Regions from separate parts of the Homo sapiens genome. Here region 2 is linked to region 1. The links come from fine-mapping of genetic effects on gene expression. A gene starts in region 1. The other region holds a variant in brackets. All regions are shown on one strand. Distances are from middle to middle. Region 1 holds the start of HHAT (hedgehog acyltransferase). Region 2 overlaps HHAT (hedgehog acyltransferase).

Evidence for each region.
Region 2: its variant is fine-mapped to the expression of HHAT in whole blood (INTERVAL, PIP above 0.99).

Annotation. Positions count from the first base shown.
Region 1 is chr1:210,325,322-210,333,660 of GRCh38, reverse strand. HHAT (hedgehog acyltransferase) reads right to left here and starts at 4,759. Exons shown (of 12, transcript NM_018194.6): 1 at 4,557-4,759. RefSeq lists enhancers at 2,901-3,070, 4,183-4,542, 5,417-5,586 and a silencer at 4,703-4,952.
Region 2 is chr1:210,402,682-210,411,020 of GRCh38, reverse strand. It overlaps HHAT (hedgehog acyltransferase), which reads right to left. Exons shown (of 12, transcript NM_018194.6): 6 at 6,342-6,557. Among named protein-coding and RNA genes, the nearest start is that of HHAT, 78 kb to the right of the region's middle. The variant G/A (reference allele first, on the strand shown) is at 4,543.

The sequences.
Region 1 (8,339 bases):
TCATAGTAGTAAAAGCAGCTCTGACGAATGTCACCAGTAAAAGTCAGATACTTTCATACTACTGTGTAGCCTTTGAAAATACTACAAAATACCATTTACATGGGCATCACTACTTTGAAATTACAGGAGTTACTTGCTACTGCACTGAATTTTGTTACTTACTGCATTGATAAAGAAGTACATATACTCATACATTTGGAGCTTTTTTAGTTTTTTCATTTTATTATTATTTTTTAAGAGACAGGGTCTCACTCTGTCATGCAGGCTAGAGTGCAGTGGCCTGATCATAGCTCACTGCAGCCTTGACCTCCTGGGCTCAAGTGATCCTTCCTCCTCAGCCTCCCAAGTAGTTGGGACTACAAGTGATGCTAGCACTGGGGAGTGGCTGCAAATACAAATTAGCATTAAGAGGGAGGTTTGACTACACAGAGACCATAATAAATCAATTGCTTGCAGACTCATATCAAAATCCTATCAGTGAGTGTCAAGTAACAAGTAGCTTAATGCTGCCTGGTGGCAGGCTTTATAGTGGCAAGTGAGTTGATGTACTTCCATCGTACAGCTGCATCTGTGGGCAGGCTTTCAGTCAGAATCCGACACTTATTTTAGTCCACTCATGGCCCGCCCATTATTTACCACTTCCAGGTGTGCCTGTTTCCTGCACTGCACATTTGTCTCAGTCACAGTTTTGGTAAGCCCACAAGCTAACCCTAGCCGAAATGAGTAAAAAACAAACATCACTGGTAAGCTTCTTTGAAAAGGGGGAAGACCCAATGATGAGACAGAAGACTGTAAGATTGCCAACAAAAAGCAAGCTGCATTTAAAAGAAAATACCAGGAGTCATACTCAAATTACAGGTTCATTGCAACAGGTGACTCACATTCTCCAAGCCCACTTTGTGTAATATGTGGCCACTGGCTATCCAATGAAGCCATGAAACCTTCAAAACTGCTTCACCACATGGAGACCAAGCACCCTGCATTAAAAGACAAGGCTTCGGAGTTTTTCAAAAGAAAAAACATAAGCACAAAGAACAGAAGCAATTATTGAAGGCTACCATTTCATCAAATGTGTCTGCAATGAGAGTATCATTCTTAGTGGCTAACCGTATTGCTAAAGCTAAGAAGCCCTTTACTATTGGTGAAGAGTAAACTAGGCGAATTGAAATAGCAGCGGATATTGAGGCACAATTGGTAGAGAGGATTAATGAGTCACTGCGGTACGCAATCTGGGTTGACTAGTCTACCAGTGTTGACAAGGCAACAATGCTTGTTTTTTTGTGATACAGTTTTCAGGAGGATATACATGAAGATGTTAGGTGCACGAGGATATGTCACTTGCACTTTTGTTGCTAACCAACACCACAGCTGCACAACTATTCAAGTCTTTGAATGATTACCTATCAGAAAAACCGAATTGGTCCTTTTGGGTAGTATGTGCTTGGGCAGAGCGACTGCTACGACTGGTTTCACTACTCGGGCCAAAGAGGTCACTTCTGAATGTGAGTCTATGCACTGTGACATCCATAGAGAAGTGTTGGCTAGCCAAAAAATGTCACCTGAACTTAAGAACATTTTGCAGGATGTGATTAAAATTATCAACCACATTAAAGTACATGCCCTTAACTCACATCTGTTCACACAGCTCTGTGAGATGGACATAGAGCACACACATCTTTTATACACAGAAGTGGGATGGCTTTCTAAAGATAGATCACTGGCCGGAGTTTGAGTTATGAGGGCCACTCCAGAGATTTCTTCTAGAAAAGTAGTCACCACTGGCAGCACATTTCATAGAAGGGGTTACAAAACTTGCTTACTTGCTTACCTCCTCAATGAACTCCATCTGTCCCTTCAGGGGAGAACTGTGTTCAAGTCGGCAGATAAGTGGCTGCACTCAAAACCAAACTGGAATTATTGCGGCGACAAGTGAACACTGGGATTTCTGACACGTTTCAAACATTAGCAGAGATTTTGAAAGAGACTAAGCCAGGGCCTTCTCTCTCCCAGCTGGTGCATGATCACCTATCTCAGCTTTCAAAAGAGTTTGAGCATTACTTCCCAACTACAAAAGACACCCGAACTGGGAAGGATCCTAGATCCATTTGTGAATAAGCCAGGTGAATTGACTTTGTCCATGCTAGAAGAGGACCAACTGTTTGAGATAGCAAATGACCGGGCCCTAGAAGTATGTTTAAGACAACTTCAAATATCCATACATTCTGGATTAAAGTCAAGGCAAAGTATCCTGAAATTGCCACAAAAGCACCGAAAAGCCTGCTTCCATTTCCAACATCCTATCTTTGTGAAGCAGGGTCTTCTGCAGTGACAGCAACCAAAATGAGACTATGAAGTAGGCTGGACATAAGCAAACACACTTTGGGTGTCAATGTCTACCAACACACCCCCCCAGATGGGACTGCCTAGTTGCAGAAAAACAAGCTCAGGGGTCCCACTGATTCTACTCTATGGTGAGTTGTATTCATATTACAATGTAATAATAATAGAAATAAAGTCCACAATAAATGTAATGCAGGTGGGGCATGGTGATTCACACCTGTAATCCCAGCACTTTGGGAGGCCAAGGAGAGGATGGCTTGAGCTCAGGAGTTCGAGCTCAGGAATTTGAGACCAGCCTGGTTGACATGGTGAAATCCTGTCTCTACTAAAAATACAAAAATTAGCCAGATGTGGTGTCGCATGCCTGTAAGCTACTCCGGAGGCTGAGGCACGAGAATTGCTTGATCCCCAGAGGTGGAGGTTGCAGTGAGCCAGTATCGTGCCACTGCACTCCAGCCTGGGTGACCCAGCGAGACTCTTGTCTCAAAACAAATAAATAAAATAAATGTAACGTGCTTGAATTATCCCAACACCATCCCCCTTCCCCCAGTCCATGAAAAACTTATTGTCCATGAAACCGGTCCTTGGTGCCAAAAAGGTTGGGGACCACTGCTTTAGGGAACATTCCCCCTGGGCCAGGTCCTAAGCTGGAAGCAGGGGGTGCAGGTAAGGCCCATGCTCGCAAGTTCCTGATGCTACCTACAGAGCTCCCACCAACATCTGGCCACCCACAAAAACGGCTGCTCCCTCCAAAGAATTGACTTTCACCCTAAGTTCATCCATCTAACCTACTTCCAAGGAGGGGGCAAAGTAAACAGTAGATAAAGCACAGGCGTTGATCCAAAAGAGGAGTCCAAAACCCGGCCCTGACATGTACTAGTTTGTGGCTTTGGCTCCCCTCCAAGGCTTTCTCTATCCTACTGTGAAAAGAGATAACAACACTTATCTTTCCCAGTTACTGTAAGGTTTAGAAATAATGTATCTAAAGCACCTAATAAGCACACAGTCTCCTTAAATTAACATTAATTGAATCTCTCAGGTCAGAGCTGTCCTTATCAAACAATCACAATTAGGGACTGACTGGCAACGAGAAAGGAGGGAGAAAAATCACAGGGAAAATGGAACATGAGGAATGGAAGGGGAAAAAAATCATTCCTCAAAGTCTCCTTCAATGAACTACCGCCTCTTCAATGAAGCCTTCCCTCTCCTCTCCTTGCATTCCCATAGCACTTAATCACATTGAAATAGGTCCTTAGCTCTGAGAATGAATGAGATGCCAGGCACGGTGGCTCACGCCTGTAATCCCAGCACTTTGGGAGGTCGAGGTGGGCAGATCACCCGAGGTCAGGAATTCGAGACCAGCCTGGCCAACACGGTGAGACCCTCGTCTCTACTAAAAATACAAAATTAGGTGGGCGTGGTGGCGCATGCCTGTAATCCCAGCTACTCAGGAGGCAAGGCTGGAGAATCGCTTGAAACCGGGATGCTGAGGTTGCAGTGAGCTGAGATTGTGCCATTGCACTCCAGCCTGGGCGACCAGAGCGAAACTCCGCCTCAAAAACACAAACAACAACAAAAACAGAAAGAGAAGCAATGTCTCACTCCCACGTAATGCAAACCTCTGAGGATGCCAAATGCCCTAGCCCTACAACCCTGATCCAAGAGCAATGTACACAGGTAGCAGCACATTTCTTAACACCAATGCTACCCGTAAAGTACCTCTGGTGAGGATTAGCGGGAGGGTTTTTCCGCATAAAGACCTGCCACCTGAAGGTTAGACTCAGAACAGAGGAAGAAAACTGAGTCCTGAAGATAGAACGCAAAGGAAGTCTCTAACTTTAGAGTCCCTGGAGTCACAGCAGGCAGGCAGGCGCACCGCCGATACTGCCAAGAGGACCAGAGTTCGCAACTCCCCGCAGCAGTTCCGGAAGCTGGGGACGAAGCCAAGGAGAGAGGACGTGGGCAGGGCCGTGCGCGGACTTGTCCCGGCGCCTAGATCCCCGCCTTTGCCCGGGCGCACTGCGCGCGCGGCCCCCGCCGCTTTTGTCTTCTTCGCCCGACCGGGAACTTCCTCTGTCCCGCCCTCGGGCGCGCACACGGGAACTTGGGTAGGAAACGGAAAGCGTTTTGTGCATTTTTTTTTTAACAGAGTAAACTGACGCAGAAAATTCAGCATCTAACCTCCCCAGGACCCCCTATGGTCACCAGTTACCAACCTCCGGGCTGTCCCGGGCGGCGGCGACGGCAACGTTCACGCGCGCCGCGAGTTCCCAACACCCCTCTTTCGGCACTTCCGAGTCCCAGCGACATCGGCGGCGGCTGCGGGCTTCCCCGGGACGCCACCCTCTTTCCCCCGGAGCTGCCCTTTGGAGGAGCAGCGCAGCGCGCGTCCTCCGAGCACGCCCCTGCCGCCGTGCCCGCGCGCCCTCCGCGCCCGGACTCGGGAACCCGCGGCGCTCTCCGGGCGATGGCGAGCAGGCCGTGCTGCTGCAGGGGGCGGGCCAGAGCGCGGCCTGCGTTTCTGAACCGCGTTTGCCCCGCCGGCGGCCCGGGGCCCCTAGCCCCGCTCACCCCTCGGCTGTTGGTTCCCACTGACCCTGGCGTGCATATCTCTCCCCCACCCGTGTGTTCATTGCAGGTCTGGGGCTGCCTGCAAGTTAATTGCAGAGTGGAAGTCACCTGAAACTCGAGGTGGGCCGTCATTCCAACACCAGTGGTCCCCACCTACGTTTTGTAGGCGAAAGGAGGTAGTTCGGTGCGGTGGAAAGAGGGTGGGCTTTGCAGCCCTGGCAGCTTCGAGGGCTTACTGTGTGAACTTAGCCCCTGTGAGCCTCCCTGTACACCTCTGTAAAACAGAAATAGACTTCCCTGCTTTTCTTTGTAAATTAGAGTGAAGATCAAATAGAATAAACTTTATGAATTGTAAAGCAACTTACAGAGATCACTACTGCAAAATGGGTACGAAGATTTTGATTGCGTTGTGAAAAGAGTGGAAGATCTGAAGATGCTCCAACGGGGTATAATTGGGACGATGTTGCTGCTCGGAGGCCTCCAAGCCTGAGCCAAGAGACAGGCTTGCCAGAGTTCTCCAGACTTATCTCAGCAGAATCACGTGGCTCTCATTAAAACCTCGGGCTTCTGGATCCCTCCCCAAACCAAAAGCATCAGACTGTCCATGGCAGGGGCGTCTCAGGTGGTTCTATGATAAGGTGAAGGTGGATAACTCTGCCCTAGGCAGCAGGGAAACTCGGAAGCTGTGCTCTCAGAAATTTCATCTAGCAGTCATTGTAATGGTCGAGAGGATTATTTTAATGATTTTAGAATTCTCCAGGAAACCAGAGTATGAACTCTCCAAGAGCTGGAGCTATCTTTTCTTTCTGCTTCCCCCCAACCCACTCACCCCAAAACCTGGTACTGGATGGTGTTCAGTAAGCAGGTGTTAGTAAACTAGCCCCAAATAGGAGTGCCAGATTTAGCAAATAAAAATACAGCATACTCAATTAAAATTGAATTTCAGGCTGGGCGCGGTGGCCCACGCCTGTAATCTCAGCACTTTAGGAGCGGTAGCAGGAGGATCACTTGAGGCCAGGAGTTTGAGACCAGCCTGGCCAACATGGTGAGACCCCGTCTCTACTAAAAATACAAAAATTAGCCGGGTGTGGTGGCCTGCACCTGTAATCCCAGCCACTTGGGAGGCTGAGGCACGAGAATCGCTTGAACCCGGGCGGCAGAGGTTGCAGTGAGCTCAGATCGCACCACTGCACTCCAACCTGGGTGACTGAGCCGGACTCTGTCTCAAAAAAATAAGTAAATAATTTCAGGTGAACAATATGTAACTTTTTAGTATCACTATGACCCATGCAATATTTGGGATATACTTATTTTTTTTAAGTACTTACAGGAAGCTTGTAATCCCAGCACTTTGGGAGGTCGAGGTGAGTAGATAACTTGAATCCAGGAGTTCGAGACCAGCCTGGCCAACATGATGAAACTCCATCTCTACCAAAAAAAAAAAAAAAAAATGGTATATCTGAAATTCAAATTTACATCCTGGGTATCTGAAAATCAAACTTAACTGGGTATTTTATCTGTCAACTCTAGATCCAAGGGTTTGGCAGAGGGAGTGGCAGAATAAGAACTCAACTCAGGTAGTGTCAAACTCAGGGACAGGGATGTGATAACAGCTCCTATATTATTTCTAAAAGATGCTGTTGTTAATATAGGTTCAGTGTGATTTACACTTAACCCCTGTCTACATATGCACTTTAAATTCACCGGCGAACACAAAGGAGATAAAGGCAGATTTAAACACAGGCAATCAGAAACATCAAATAAAAATAGCCAAAATTTATGTGTGTGTGTATATATATATATATATATATATATATATATATGTATGTATTAGAGACAGTCTCACTGTGTCACCCAGGCTAAGCACAGTGGCATGATCTCAGCTCACTGCAGATTCAAGCAATTCTTGTGCCTTAGCCACCTGAGTGGCTGGGATTACAGGCAAGCACCAGCCACCACACCTGGCTATTTAGTAGAGACAGGGTTTTGCCTTGTTGGCCAGGCTGGTCTCGAACTCCTGGCCTCAAGTGATGCACCTGCCTCAGCCTCCCAAAGTGCTGGGATTACAGGTGTGAGCCACCATGCTTGGCCATAATAGCCAAAATTTAAAGATAAGCAATAGACTGGGATATTTGCAAGAAATTTGCAAAGTGTTAATTTTAAAATTATATATAGAGTTAATACAATCAATAAGAAAACATTAGAAATCAATTATAGATGAGCAAGACACATTTATAGACAACCCACTAGAAAAAGGAGGAGGGAAATAAAAGTAGGAAACAAAAATATATTGCAAAAAGCTCAATGAAATGCATAGTAAAACAAGAACATGGTGGCTCACGCCTGTAATCCCAGCACTTTGGGAGGCCAAGGTGGGTGGATCACGAAGTCAGGAGATCAAGACCATCCTGGCTAACGTGGTGAAACCCCGTCTCTACTAAAAATACAAAAACAAAATTAGCCAGGCATCGTGGCGGGTGTCTGTAGTCCCAGCTACTCGGGAGGCTGAGGCAGGAGAATGGCGTGAACCCGGGAGGCAGAGGTTGCAGTGAGCCGAGATCGTGCCACTGCACTCCAGCCTGGGTGACTGAGCAAGACCCCGTCTCAAAAAAAAAAAAAAAAAAAAAAAAAACAAGAACACACAATTTTCACACATTAAGTTGGCAAAAAATTAATAAATAACATTACAGCCTGGCATGGGTGCTATGTGATAGCACTCACACACAATGTTTAGTTGGGTAAGCAATTTGGCAGTATGAAAACTTAAAATTTATCAAAATCTAAGGGAGGTGGGGCAAGATGCCAAATAGAAGCTTCCACCAATTGTCCTCCCTTCAAGAACAACAAAATGAACAACTATCAACAAAAAACACCTTAATAAGAACCAAAGATCAAGTGGGCCATTGCAGTACCAAGTTTTAACTTCATATCACTGAAAGAGGCACTGAAAAGCGTAGAGAAGACAGTCTTGAATTGCAGACGCTACCCCTCCCTCATCCTACAGCAGCAGCTGGGGAAAGATTCTCTCAGATCTTATGCAAGACCACTAAGGTGGTACCTCTGAGTCTGCAAGAGCCGTAGCATTCCTGAGCTTGAGGTGCCCTCTAATGCAGATATGATGGCAGTGACCCAAACCTAAATGACAACACCCAAGTCCCTTAGAATACCTGGAAAGCCTTCCCAAGAAGGATGAATACAAACAAGCCCACCCTGTGAAGACTACAATAAGTACCTAACTCTTCAATGCCCAGACACTGACACACATTCACAAGCATCAAGACCATCCAGGAAAACATGACATCACCAAACAAACTAAATAAGGCATCAATCCCAGAGTGACCTTTCAGACAGAGAATTCAAAATAGCTCTTTTGAAGAAACTCAATGAAATTCAAGAAAACATGAGATGGAATTCAGAATCCTACCAGG
Region 2 (8,339 bases), 77 kb before region 1:
TTTGTCATGCATTGGCTTCTTAATAATGACTTACCTACTTTTCACAAGCTAAAACTTCCCTACCAGGTATAATAAGGCATAATTACATGTCACTACAGGACCAAAAGGACTAGACTTTTCTCTGCAACACTCCTTTTCTGGTGCTGACTGCCTCCCTGCTCCAAGCAACAGAAATGTTTATTAATTGCACAAATAAGCCAGGCATGGTGGCTCATGCGTGTAATCCCAGCACTTAGGGAGGCCAAGGCGGGCGGATCACTTGAGGTCAGGAGTTCAAGACTAGCCTGGCCAACAGGGTCAAACCCTGTCTCTACTAAAAATACAAAATTAGCTGGGCGTGGTGGCAGGTGCCTGTAATCCCAGCTACTCGGGAGGCTGAGGCAGGAGAATCGCTTGAACCTGGGAGGTGGAGGTTGCAGTGAGCCAAGATCGTGCCACTGCACTCTAGCCTGGGTGAAGAGTGAGACTCTATCTTAAAAAAAAAAAAAAAAAAAAAATTTACAAATAAACAACACAGCAAAAGAAAAACAATCCAACTTTCATTCTATTTGCTTTTACTTAAAAAAAAAAAAACAAAAGGTTTTTCATCTTTCTTTAGGGTCATATCATTATTACAGTCCATTTACATCTGCAATCTAGTTGACTGTCTTTTGTTTAAAAAATCCGGCCAGGCATGGTGGCTCACGCCTGCAATCCCAGCACTTTGGGAGGCCAAGGCGGGTGGATCACAAGGTCAGGAGATCGAGACCATTCTGGCTAACACGATGAAACCTCGTCTCTACTAAAAAAAATACAAAAAAATTAGCTGGGCGTGGTGGCTGGCACCTGTAGGCCCAGCTACTCGGGAGGCTGAGGCAGGAGAATGACGTGAACCCGGGAGGTGGAGGTTGCAGTGAGCCAAGATCGCAGCACTGCACTCCATCCTGGGCGACAGAGCCAGACTCTGTCTCAAAAAAAAAAAAATCCAAAATTTGTCCCTTGTCAACCCAGCAGGAAGAACAGACAGACCATATATAGCTCATCTAATGTGCAGGGCGGCTCTCTTGCCTGCATGCAAAGTATTTCATTTAAGACATTTCAAACCTAGGGGACTGCCAAACCTTTAGACCACTGGAAACTGCCACCATGGAAATTGTGAAGTTCAGGCATCACTAAAAAATACACATTAACTCATCTGCAAAGTGCATTTCAAAATGCATTATACTTTAAAACCTAATTTCATGCAAATTGCATAAAAAGGAATAGCTATGCCTTTCTCTTTCTCCCAAATATATTCTGATGATTAAAGATGACAGTTCTCAAAGATGAAAGGTTCTTTTTCTTCATACACGAATAATACATATGTTTGTGAGCACCAAACAAAAGCCCTCCCCAGAGGCAGATATTCAACTGGGCCACCTGGGCCACTAACTTATTAGCTTCTCTCTGCTTGGGTCTAGGAGGCCTTGTGGCAGTTGTTGTATTCCTTTATACTGGTCACAGACCATACCCCTACTCCTAACAAATCATTCCCTAATCAGACCCACATTACTCCCACCCGCTAGCCATCCAGACCAAGGCCAGCAACATCCAGTGAGCTCTCCCAGAACAGCAAGTGGGGCCTGCAGGTGTTGCTGCCACCAAGGCTGGTACTTGGTTCAGCCTGCTTGAGCCTCCAGACCTTCATGTCCACTAGGCCACACTCCATCCCCCTCTAACTCCTCTCACACACCAAGTCAGCGCAACAAGGCTCATGTCTTGATTCCCTTCACTCTATCTGCATTGTAATAGCCTCTCTTTGCCTCTGTTTCCCTGTCTGTAAAGTGGTCATGACAGTATCTCTCTCACAGGTTGTGAGGATTAAACAAGCTAGAATGGCCAGGCACAATGGTGTGTGCCTGTAATCCCAGCACTTTGGGAGGCCGAAGCAAGAGAATCACTTGAGGCCAGGAGTTTGAGACCAGCCTGGGCAACATAGCAAGACCTCATCTCTAGAAAAGTATTTTTAAAAAATTAGCCAGGTGTGGTGATGCATACCTATAGTCCTAGCTACTCAGGAGGCTGAGGTGGGAGGATCACTTGAGCTCGGGAGGCCAAAGCTACAGTGAGCTATGATTGCACCATTGCACTCCAACCTGGGTGTCAGAGTGAGACCATCTCAAACATTTTAAGTTAGAACGTATAAAGCCTGGCTCAGACTAAATGATCACCTAGTATATTTTATTACAATTAGCATGATTCCAGGTGCTCTCTAGAACCAGAGCCCATGCCAAGTACTAAACAAAGCTTCTGGGACATTGACTGCCTTGCACAGCTCTTGCCAGTCCCAGCAACTCTTGGACTGCCCCCATCCCTTTCCTGCAGCAGCTGCCTGGGTCTCTCTTCAAATAGATGGAACCAGCACACTGGCCTCTTCTGAGCCCAAGCATGGCCATGGCCCAGAGTCCCCTGCTGCTGTGCCTGCCTACCAGACTGGATACCCAGGGTCTCACTTCTGACCTAAACTACCCTAGAATTACACTTGCTTTCTGGCCAATCATCACAATAATAAAAGTAAGAGGCCGAGCATGGTGGCTCACACCTGTAACCCCAGCACTTTAGGAGGCCGAGGCGGGCGGATCACCTGAGGTCGGGAGTTCAAGACCAGCCTGGCCAACATGGTAAAACCCCATCTCTACTAAAAATACAAAAATCAGCTGGGTGCGTTGGTGCACGCCTATAATTCCAGCTACTTGGGAGGCTGAGGCACAAGAATCACTTGATACCAGGAGGTGGAGGTTGCGATGAGCTAAAGTTGTGCCACTGCACTCCAGCCTGGGCAACTGAGCCAGACTCTGTCTCAAATAATAATAAGAGTAAGAATTAACACTTTATAGTATTAACCTGTCAAACCACATTACCTATACACAATCATTTAATCCTCACAGCAATCCTGAGGGAGGCACTATTATTCTTCCCATTTCACTGATAAGAAGACTGAGGCATAAGTAAGGTAAGTAACTCAGCAAGCACTCTCAAGCCGAAGCACAGCAGGGATTCAAACCCTGGAGGGTGGGCTCCAGGACCTTTGCTCTCAACCTCCATGCCAAATTCCCTATTTGACCACTGGCTTCTCTAAGGTGGGAGAGCACAGTGCCCAGCAAGGAAGAGTCCCTGGCCCACCACCCTAAGGCTGCTCTTCTCCCCAGTGCCCACACCACACCAGTCAACCTCTTCAAGACGTAGTGGCCCCAGGCTTCAGGCTAAGCAAGTAAACACCATGTCCTTCCCTTCCCTAAGTCCCCCAGGATCCCTGTCTCACCGCTGACTTGGTATCCGAGTTCCACAGAAACGTGAGAGAAAAACAAATCAGGCCCATGTTCCTAAAACTCTAAATGCCACCAGAAATAGCCTTCAAGTTAAGGCACAGAGGCAAATTTTTACCTGTTCGTGACTAATTATGCAAATTTCACATGCTTTACATTGCAGAAGACAACGCTTCTATACCTCCCTCATTTTGTGTATGTAAATTGGGTGGAAGACACATTCTCCAGGTGTATGCCTAAAACTAACATTGTCATTTGATCTTTTGGAGTTTGCAGATACTGGGTGAAGATTTCCCGCTGGGGTTGGTTTCCACAATGGGGCACTGCTGCCCCCTGGTGGTGCAGCGTCATTCTCCTGCTCTACGTTATTTTTATGCATTGACCTGCCAGTCTAAGAACCATGCATTTCAATATTTCCAATCCTTATAGCTGAAGGCATTTCATGCATGCATTCATTCAAGCATTCATTCAGAGCAAATCTTACTTACTAGTTCTTCCAACTAGCTTTCTTTCTCCACCTCCCAGCCTTTTCCTTTTTGGCTTCTCTGAAAGAACCCTTTCACTGCAAGATAAGCTTTTTGGTTTAACCCCCTGCCCCTTTAAAGCCCCCTTCCCCACAGAAGGGAAGTTCCCCACAGCCACCTTCAGCAAGTGCAGAAACCTCCTGGCTTTTTAAATTTGCCCTATATCTTACTGAACATTTATCCTTTTCTAGAATGACTATTCTATGAATACTCCCCCAAACATAGAGGTTTTAATTTGCCCTTTCAAGTTCCCTGCTGTCAGCAATTGCTATTGTTTTAGAAGGGGTTAAAAAAGAAGAGAGAGAGAGGGAAGGAAAAGACATGGATAAAACCCAGAGTGTCTATACCTGGCCCCTACAGGAAGCAACCTGCCCCTTCACTTCCCCAGAATGAGACTCAAGAGAATGAGAACCCTTGGCTAAGGATTTAGGTGGAAGATAATCTTAAAGCGTGCCTCTGTGTGACACAGGACCCTGCTAGAGGCCTCTAATATTCTTACTAGACCCTAAAAGGCACAATTTGAAAAGGGAGGCCAGGCTCAAGCCTGTAATCCTAGCACTTTGGGAGGCTGAGGGCAGATTGCCTGACCTCAGGAGTTAGAGACAAGCCTGGGAAACATAGCAAAACCCGGTCTCTACTAAAAATACAAAAAATTAGCTGGACTTGCTGGTGCATGCCTGTAATCCAGCTACTCAGGAGGCTCAGACACGGGAATCACTTGAACCCAGGAGGTG[G/A]AGGTTGCAGTAAGCTGAGATTACACCACTGCACTCCAGCCTGGGTGACAGAGTAAGACTCTGTCTCAAAAAAAAAAAGAAGAAAAAGGAGATGAGAAATAACAGAAACAATTATTTTGCATAATAACAAAGTACAGAGCATACAGGCAAAGCTTATATACAGGAGGAAGTTAGGAAAATAATCTGTTTCCTTCTAATGGATTTAGTTTATGTTTCTCTGAAAATTACCAGCCATCCTCAGGAGAGGGGTGTCTGTGTGTGGATGTTTGGTCCAAAAGTTATTGGCTGGCAAACTGAGAATAATTCAAAAGTTCACAAAGGTAAGGAGATTGTAAAAGAGAGGAACCCACCCTATGCTGTGCCCACCTTACCTTTACTCCCACCCTCCTCCTGGAGGGCCTGTTAAACCACCTTCCTGGGCTTTATCCCTAGAGGCTGTGATTCAGGAGGTTGGAGAGGACCTGAGAATTTGTATTTCTAACAAGCTCTCTGGCGATACTGATGCTGCTGGTCCAGGAACCACACTTTGCAAATCATTGAGTTAGAAGATCAGCTGCCATCATTAAACCATCTCTTTTACACAATAATTTTAAACACAATTTCAAATGCAGATTTTAAATTCCTTCATGACAAAAGAACGATCCCAAACCGAGGTATGAGAAACCATAGACTAAACATATCTGTCTAGAATATCAATTTCACTTACAGATTTCTAGAGATATAAAAAGTTACATACTTTCACTGGAAATTTTAGAACATTATGTTATTGTTATAATGCAAAAATATATTCTTGAATACAATGCATAATTCAGTGGAACTTTGAGGACAAAATAAGATTTCTAAGAACCCTCCTTTTTCAGGGAGCAACTTTCATGTTGCTGCCCAGAAATGTGCAACACTGCTGCTTGCCCTGCCCTTCCAGGTGTGTGCGTATGCGTGGGTATGTGTTCTGCGTGTGCATGCATGTCTGTGTATGCACGTACATGTTATTTTCTCCTCTATGAGGATTGTTTTGTTGGTGAGGGATAGAATATCCCTTGAGAACACTGTTTTAGGCATTTTCAATTACTAATTCCTTAGGTGAATTAACTTAGCAATTATGTTCCATGAAACTAGAGGTAGGTTGAGGAGGCAGAAAAAAAAGAAAGTTCTAAACAAGGGGGAAAAGTGAAGTAGGGGGGAACAACAGAGGTAGCTTAACATGGCATTTCAGACAAGGATGCCGTCCGAGGAAGGCAGGCGGGGGCCTGGGCACAAAGGGGGATCCAGACATGAACACACACCACTGCCTTCGAACTTACTTCAACTCCACTCTGTTTTCACACCTAGGTCACCCTGAACAGCTCCCAGGCTATGGCAGGACTATTTCTTAAGCAGCTTGTGAATATAAAAGGAAACATACTATTTGCCAAGCAACAGCTTAGACAGTTTCCTTTTCTATTCCTTCAAGTAATAGCATCATAATCAAATTTTTTTCTTTCCTTGGGACTTTGCCACAGTGGATACCAACTCCCAAACTCCTTGTTGTGCCCTACTCATTAATCCTGGTTGCCAGAGTTCACTGAAAATCAAGGTGGGACCCCCTAGAGCTGACATATCTGATGGGTCAAACTTTATTTTAAAGGCTCATTTCTCATATGTATTTCATCTATTACAAAAAACCTCATGAGAACTAATAGTATGTGTTGTAAATCTGTGGGCACCTCTGAACAAAACGACTCAAGAGTCAGAGAAGACCAGAGCAACAGCGACAAAGGCTTAAGCTATAGAATCCCAATCCCATCCCCAGCGGGCTCTACCTGTTTGATGAACTCCGAGAAGCTGAGGATGGGCCCATTGTGTAAGACTGGATAATAAAAGACATAGGCCAGCATCCAGGGAAAGGAGTAGGAGGTCGATGCAGCAGGCAGCTGCTGCCAGCAGAGCTCCAGGCTGAAGCTGGTGTAGTACAGGCAGCGAACGGTCAGCGTGAACTGCAGCAGGTAGTACTCGTTTTCTGTCTTGTACCACCTTCTCTACAAAATCAAAAGGAGAGAACAACCTTTGAGTGGCCAGCAGGGACATCGTCCAGTCCCACTGCAGGTGCTGGCCAGCAGGGCCACCGTCATCTGAGAATCCCAGGGGGCTCTGGGAAGGCAATTTCTTCTTCAGGCAGAGCAGCTGTGCCATAAAAGGCAGTCGAGAACCAATGAACACCAGGTAAATCTCATTGGTAATCAAAGCAAGCAGTTAATGAGCAGTAGGAAAAAGGACATCTCTAATGTTAACCTAGCATTAGGTCTGACACAACATAACGAAGGTTTTCCCAGTTAGGCATGTATCAGATACATCCAGGGCATAAGGTGCAGATTAGCTACATCCAGTGGATACTTTGACAGCTTCTTCAACAATTCAGATAACAAAGAGGGGCTTAAAATGTCCCATGGGATTTCTGTCTTCAATGTATTTTTCGTTTTCCTCTTTTGTTATCAGTTTGGCTCTACATTTAGTTGAGTAGCATTTGTCTAATAAGCTTTACAGACAAATATTTAAAAAAAAAAAAAAAAAGTCCCTGCCCTCAATATGTTAAATTCTCATACAGGACGTAGATGTGTAAAAATGCAATTACAATAGAGCATGAAACAAGAAATAACCTGTGCAAAAATATGCATGGAACAAAAAATGAGAAGGAAATACAATAAAATGTTAATATCGGGGAGTAAAATTATGAAGTATTTTCTAATTTCTATATTTTTCTACATTTTCCATGTTTTCCAAAAATACATTTAGTGAGAAAAACTATTTATGGAAATACATACGAGAAATAGAACTTGGGTCAAAGGAGAAAGTAATTAACTTGATCCATCAGGGTCTCTTAAAGCTGTACACAGAAAAACCAACCACTGAACAGAGTTTCTACTTCTTGTACAAGACTTTAGCAGCCACCAAGGGAAAAGAGGATAATCATATCAGGAGAACCACATGTGCAAAAGCATGGAAACCCAGCTAGTTTCTAATCACATGATCTCCTTCCTCAGTGTTTTTCAAATCACTGTAAAATTTGCAGAACAAATGAACATTTATTCACCTCCAACATCTATAACTGATGCTAATTGTCCCCAAATAAATGATAAATGGAATTAGATTCTGTTTGTACACTTGCCAGGTCCCCAAAAGGTTAGGTATGAGCTTGTTTTTATTTTTACTGTAAATCTGTTTTTAAGCACACTTGCCTAAATGGTTGCCTAATCATTCTGGGAAGTATCTTCATTAAAACGGAGTGATTATCTGATATACTCTCATAAGTCCAGATTTTGACATACGTGCTTAAAATGCTAGCCCCACATCATTAATGAGAGTGAGAAAAATGAAGGTAGACTAAAAACAGCAAAAAATACTTGAACTTTCAAAATGCTACAATTTTCACAAAATCACTTAACATAGATTATCCCGTTTGACTCTCAGAACAATCCCATGAGGAAGGAAGAGGATTTATTACTTCTGTTTTCCAAATGATGAGATTGAGGCTCAGAGGTTAAATGACTGCTCCAGCTTCAGAGTAGGAAGAGATGGGGAATAGAATAGACTAGGAACCAGGTCATCCATCTCACATTTCCCATCATGTTCCTTCCCATCACTGTGTTGATGCAGGGCACATGAATGCTAAGTGTTGTCACCTGGATCAATGAATGAGTGACTGAATGAATGAATAAAAAGATACCACAGGAGTTCCAGTCCCACAGTGATTGAAGAAAGAATACCCAACACTGCCCAAGATTTTGAATGTGCCTATGGAGATCCTAGGGGGTTAGAGGAAG